Linked DNA regions of Homo sapiens. The protein of the gene in region 1 purifies or fractionates together with the protein of each later gene. This does not show direct contact. Each region holds a gene or a part of one and is shown in the gene's direction. Other genes may lie near its edges.

Region 1 (3,500 bases):
TTTGTCAATCTTAGTTAAATTATAGGCACGAGCATCAGATTTTATTACTTTTGTTGTTTTTTGTTAATAAAATTATATGACATAAATTTATCCAAAAATCATATAGAAGTCCAGATTTATTTGTAGACGTCTGAGCTAAGAGAGAGGCAGTTATTCTTCTGTAAGTCTTTTTGCTAGGTCTTGTTATGAAGTCTTCACTCAGACTCTATATATTGTTTGTTGATTTTATTTTCTAGTTTCACAATGCAGATAATGGCAATTTATCTTTAGAGTCTTAATCCTATAACTGATTACATTGATAGTAGTAATAGTAATAGAAGCAGCAGCAGCAATAACAATATGTTAAGTTTTTAAATAATCCTACCTTATCAGATAGATAATTATATCTCCACTTTATAGAAGAGTAAACTGAGGTTCATGAAGGCTAAATAAATTATTCCAATCATGTAGCTAAATATAAAACCTGTGTTTTAAAAACAGTGTTCTATTCTACATCATTCTCCAAAATATGCTATAATTGTTAATTATTCTTAGTACTAAAACTCATTAGAAAGGCAGCTTTATATATTTTCAAATATAATTTTTAATGATAGTGAACTATTTGCTAAGGAATATGCCATATTTTTACATCTAACTTTCTTTGAATGCCCCTTTTCCTGTTGTTTACAGAAAGTATCACCTTGGGTAGGCTTGCGCAAGATCAATATATCCTATTGGGGATGGGAAGACATGTCTCCTTTTACAAACACAACACTACAGTGGCTTCCTGGCGAACCCAATGATTCTGGGTTTTGTGCATATCTGGAAAGGGCTGCAGTGGCAGGCTTAAAAGCTAATCCTTGTACATCTATGGCAAATGGCCTTGTCTGTGAAAAACCTGTTGGTAAGTAGTCCAGTAAATTAGCATTCCTTTAAAAGTATGTTTCCCACCCATCTTCTCATTCCTTCCTTCTAGGGTGTAGTCTTATTCTATGATATTTATGTAAATTTTATTTTTATACACATTCTTCCCCACTTACTATTAGTGATCTCAGCATTAACTTGTGAAAATAACATAATATTATTATTTTATGCAAACTTTGTTGGTTCAAATAGTGAGATTGTGGTTGTAGTTACTTATAATATGACAATAATCTATTCTTAATTCATTAATGTCTTTTACTTTTATCATGATAGTGTTTGGGAAGAAGATTTGCTTTTAAGATTAATGGCTAATTGGGACTCCTTTTACTCTTGTAGACATATTTCAGTTATCAAGTAAAAAGAAACATTTTTGTTACATCTTCTGAAATGGATTTTTGTTAAGTAAGAAAGGAATATTGAATTCTTTTCTTTTAAATCTTATATTTTTATCATGGTAAAATGTACTTAAAATTTACCATTTTAACCATTGTAAATGTATTTTAATGCCAATTCAATGGCATTAAATACTTTGACACTGTTGTGCAAACATCATCACCATTTAGCTCCAGAACTTTTTCATTTTGCAAAACTAAAAATCTGTACCCATTAAACAATAACTCTCCATTTCCTCCACCCCACCCCCTACAGTCCCTAGCAACTACTGTTCTACTTTCTGTCTCTATGAATTTACTACTTCAGGTACCTCATATGGTGAAATCATACAGTATATGTGCTTTGTGACTGGCTTATTCCCTTAGCATAATGTCTTTAGGGTTTAACCAAGTTGTAGGATATATGAGAATTTCCTTCCTTTTTAAGGTTGACCAATATTACATTATATGTAAATACTACATTTTGTTCATCCATTCATTTATCAATGGATACTTGCGTTGCTTCTACCTTTTTGCTATTGTGAGTAATGCTGCTATGAATGTGGGTGTATGAATAACTGTTCAGCTTCTTGCTTTCACTTCTTTGGGGTATATATATATAGCCAGAAGCAGAATTACAAAATAATGTGGCAATTCTGTTTTTCACATTCCCACCAGCAGTGCACAAAGGTTTCAATTTCTCTCCATCCTTGCCAATATTTATTTCCTATTATTTTTAAATAATGGCCATCTTAAAGGCTGTGATAAATATTGTATCTTGTGTAATATTTTATGATAAGCTGTATTTTTATTCTTTGTTTATATCAAAGACATGTTCACTTACAGGACATTTACTTTGTAAGATGTGGAATGCTATGGAAAACGTGGCTGGGAAAAAATTGTGGCTGGGAAAATAAACAGTGCTGGTATACAAACTAGGTCATAGATTACATTACTGCTTATAATACTTAAAATTATACAACTTTATATACTTTGTAAAGAATTACAAATTTCAAAGGAGTTATACATTTTCAAATTTAATAAAAATTTTAAGAAGTATTGATATATCATCTTTGTTTTTATCTACCTCATCATATTATAATGCCACAGTTGGCTTAATTGAAACATGCCCTGAACAGCAAAGCAAAGAAAACCCATACAATTGTGTTAACATGAAGTTAAAAATGAAATTATTGTATTTGTTTATTTATTCCAGTTAGTCCAAATCAAAATGCGAGGCCGTGCAAAAAGCCATGCTCTCTGAGGACATCATGTTCCAACTGTACAAGCAATGGCATGGAGTGTATGTGGTGCAGCAGTACGAAACGATGTGTTGACTCTAATGCCTATATCATCTCTTTTCCATATGGACAATGTCTAGAGTGGCAAACTGCCACCTGCTCCCGTAAGTATTTATCTAGAGTGACTTTTCACTTGACAGCAACGTAAATTTACTTTTCTGTGATGTAAAGAAGAATTAAATATTTGAAGAAGTTTCAAAAAATGAGAAAAAATATTGTTACGGCTACTTTTGAAACCAACTGGTACTGTTAACCTCTGATTTTTATTATATCATCATTTTGCATGCCACTAAGTATCTTACCCTAAATATTAACATATTGCCACATATGTACAGCCTCTTTTCCCTGAACTGTGTGTATGTTGCAGACAGTATAACACTTCATGAGAGTGTTCACCTCAAACATCACAGATTGCTTTGGTGAGCCTTTTTAGTATCTTTTAATCTAGTGCAATTCCCATATCTTTTCCTTATATGACTTTGATATTTTTGAATAACCTATACCAATTGTTTTGGAGGTTTCTCAATTTGGATTTGTCTAATTTTTCCCTCATGATTAGATTCAGGAAAGCATTTTGGGGCAAGAATATTTTATCAATGTTGGTATATCTGCTACAAGTATAGAATGCACAGTCTTGAAATCACATAGAGTTATGTCAGCAGGGCAGTACTGGGCTTGCTATGAGTTATACTTCAGGAGAAAGATTTTGCCCCTTGCTGATCTCTCATGTTTTCTAAGGACTATAGGATAAGGCTGCACCTGAATGAATATTTAATACTGGGTACTATGTGGTGAGAGTGGCCTTGCTTACAAACACAAATGGCGTCAGAATACAGCTGCCAAGGGAATTGCATAATGCTACTGGGAGCACTTGTTAGCCTTGTAGGAACTTAAGACCGTGTGAAACTCTTTCTGCTTGGGAGAA
Region 2 (3,500 bases), on another chromosome or scaffold:
TAGGTATATCTCCTAATGCTATCCCTCCCCCCACCCCACAACAGTCCCCAGAGTGTGATGTTCCCCTTCCTGTGTCCATGTGTTCTCATTGTTCAATTCCCATCTGTGAGTGAGAACATGCGGTGTTTGGTTTTTTGTCCTTGCGATAGTTTACTGAGAATGATGGTTTCCAATTTCATCCATGTCCCTACAAAGGACATGAACTCATCATTTTTTATGGCTGCATAGTATTCCATGGTGTATATGTGCCACATTTTCTTAATCCAGTCTATCATTGTTGGACATTTGGGTTGGTTCCAAGTCTTTGCTATTGTGAATAGTGCTGCAATAAACATACGTGTGCATGTGCCTTTATAGCAGCATGATTTATAGTCCTTTGGGTATATACCCAGTAATGGGATGGCTGGGTCAAATGGTATTTCTAGTTCTAGATCCCTGAGGAATCGCCACACTGACTTCCACAATGGTTGAACTAGTTTACAGTCCCACCAACAGTGTAAAAGTGTTCCTATTTCTCCACATCCTCTCCAGCACCTGTTGTTTCCAGACTTTTTAATGATTGCCATTCTAACTGGTGTGAGATGGTATCTCATTGTGGTTTTGATTTGCATTTCTCTGATGGCCAGTGATGATGAGCATTTTTTCATTTGTCTTTTGGCTGCATAAATGTCTTCTTTTGAGAAGTGTCTGTTCATATCCTTTGCCCGCTTTTTGATGGGGTTGTTAGTTTTTTTCTTGTAAATTTGTTTGAGTTCATTGTAGATTCTGGATATTCGCCCTTTGTCAGATGAGTAGGTTGCGAAAATTTTCTCCCATTTTGTAGGTTGCCTGTTCACTCTGATGGTAGTTTCTTTTGCTGTGCAGAAGCTCTTTAGTTTAATTAGATCCCATTTGTCAATTTTGGCTTTTGTTGCCATTGCTTTTGGTGTTTTAGACATGAAGTCCTTGCCCATGCCTATGTCCTGAATGGTAATGCCTAGGTTTTCTTCTAGGGTTTTTATGGTTTTAGGTCTAACGTTTAAGTCTTTAATCCATCTTGAATTAATTTTTGTATAAGGTGTAAGGAAGGGATCCAGTTTCAGCTTTCTCCATATGGCTAGCCAGTTTTCCCAGCACCATTTATTAAATAGGGAATCCTTCCCCCATTGCTTGTTTTTCTCAGGTTTGTCAAAGATCAGATAGTTGTAGATATGCGGAGTTATTTCTGAGGGCTCTGTTCTGTTCCATTGATCTATATCTCTGTTTTGGTACCAGTACCATGCTGTTTTGGTTACTGTAGCCTTGTATTATAGTTTGAAGTCAGGTAGCATGATGCCTCCAGCTTTGTTCTTTTGGCTTAGGATTGACTTGGCGATGCGGGCTCTTTTTTGGTTCCATATGAACTTTAAAGTAGTTTTTTCCAATTTTGTGAAGAAAGTCATTGGTAGCTTGATGGGGATGGCATTGAATCTATAAATTACCTTGGAAGGAAATAGAGACACAAAAAACCCTTCAAAAAATTAATGAATCCAGGAGCTGGTTTTTTGAAAGGATCAACAAAATTGATAGACCACTAGCAAGACTAATAAAGAAAAAAAGAGAAGAATCAAATAGACGCAATAAAAAATGATAAAGGGGATATCACCACCGATCCCACAGAAATACAAACTACCATCAGAGAATACTACAAACACCTCTACGCAAATAAACTAGAAAATCTAGAAGAAATGGATAAATTCCTCGACACACTCTCCCAAGACTAAACTGGGAAGAAGTTGAATCTCTGAATAGACCAATAACAGGATCTGAAATTGTGGCAATAATCAACAGCTTACCAACCAAAAAGAGTCCAGGACCAGATGGATTCACAGCCAAATTCTACCAGAGGTACAAGGAGGAACTGGTACCATTCCTTCTGAAACTATTCCAATCAATGGAAAAAGAGGGAATCCTCCCTAACTCATTTTATGAGGCCAGCATCATCCTGATACCAAAGCCAGGCAGAGACACAACCAAAAAAGAGAGTTTTAGACCAATATCCTTGGTGAACATTGATGCAGAAATCCTCAATAAAATACTGGCAAACTGAATCCAGCAGCACATCAAAAAGCTTATCCACCATGATCAAGTGGGCTTCATCCCTGGGATGCAAGGCTGGTTCAATATACGCAAATCAATAAATGTAATCCAGCATATAAACAGAACCAAAGACAAAAACCACATGATTATCTCAATAGATGCAGAAAAGGCCTTTGACAAAATTCAACAACCCTTCATTCTAAAAACGCTCAATAAATTAGGTATTGATGGGATGTATCTCAAAATAATAAGAGCTATCTGTGACAAACCCACAGCCAATATCATACTGAATGGGCAAAAACTGGAAGCATTCCCTTTGAAACCTGGCACAAGACAGGGATGCCCTTTCTCACCACTCCTATTCAACATAGTGTTGGAAGTTGTGGCCAGGGCAATTAGGCAGGAGAAGGAAATAAAGGCTATTCAGTTAGGAAAAGAGGAAGTCAAATTGTCCCTGTTTGCAGATGACATGATTGTATATCTAGAAAACCCCATTGTCTCAGCCCCAAATCTCCTTAAGCTGATAAGCAACTTCAGCAAAGTCTCAGGATACAAAATCAATGCACAAAAATCACAAGCATTCTTATATACCAATAACAGAAAAACAGAGAGCCAAGTCATGAGTGAACTCCCATTCACAATTGCTTCAAAGAGAATAAAATACCTAGGAATCCAACTTACAAGGGACGTGAAGGACCTCTTCAAGGAGAACTACAAACCACTGCTCAATGAAATAAAAGAGGATACAAACAAATGGAAGAACATTCCATGCTCATGGATAGGAAGAATCAATATAGTGAAAATGGCCATACTGTCCAAGGTAATTTATAATTCAGTGACAAGTTTTTGTATTATATCGTCATTCTTTGTCATCTTTGATACCTTTTTCAAAATTGAGTTGACTTAAAATCTTTGTACCCTATTTTATTGGTATTTAAGTATTTTTGGTGTCTCAGGTGGCTGCGCTACATAATTATAGAAATCACTACAAGGTGGATTTCTATTTACAAATAATAAATGAAAAATACATTGCATACAATGAGATACTTCATACCTGTTAGGATGGCTGGTATTAAAAACAGAAAATAGCCAAGATGTGGAGATGTTGGAACCCTTGTGCATTACTCATGGGAATGTAAAATGGTTCAGCTGCTGTGGAAAACAATTTGGTGGTTCCTCAAAAAGTAGTTAAACATAGAATTATCATAGGTAGAGCAATTTCACTCCTAGGTATATAACCAAAACACCTTTTTTTTTTTTTTTTTTTTTTTTTGAGACAGAGTCTTGTTCTGTCACCCAGGCTGGAGTGTAGTGGCGGGATCTTGGTTCATTGCAACCTCTGCCTTCTGGTTCAAGCAATTCTCCCACCTCAGCCTTCCGAGTAGCTGGGATTACAGGCATGCGCCACCACACTTGGGTAATTTTTTGTATTTTTAGTAGAG

Evidence for each region. The genes of interacting proteins can lie anywhere in the genome.
Region 2: the proteins of ATRNL1 (region 1) and PRKAR2A fractionate together in Homo sapiens (co-fractionation; one large-scale study listed by BioGRID). This does not show direct contact.

Annotation. Positions count from the first base shown.
Region 1 is NC_000010.11:115,299,365-115,302,864, forward strand, and holds part of ATRNL1 (attractin-like protein 1 isoform 1 precursor), read left to right. Parts: intron 1-669; coding exon 670-883; intron 884-2,490; coding exon 2,491-2,679; intron 2,680-3,500. UniProt on the Homo sapiens protein: May play a role in melanocortin signaling pathways that regulate energy homeostasis.
Region 2 is NC_000003.12:48,841,375-48,844,874, reverse strand, and holds part of PRKAR2A (cAMP-dependent protein kinase type II-alpha regulatory subunit), read left to right. Parts: intron 1-3,500. UniProt on the Homo sapiens protein: Regulatory subunit of the cAMP-dependent protein kinases involved in cAMP signaling in cells. Type II regulatory chains mediate membrane association by binding to anchoring proteins, including the MAP2 kinase.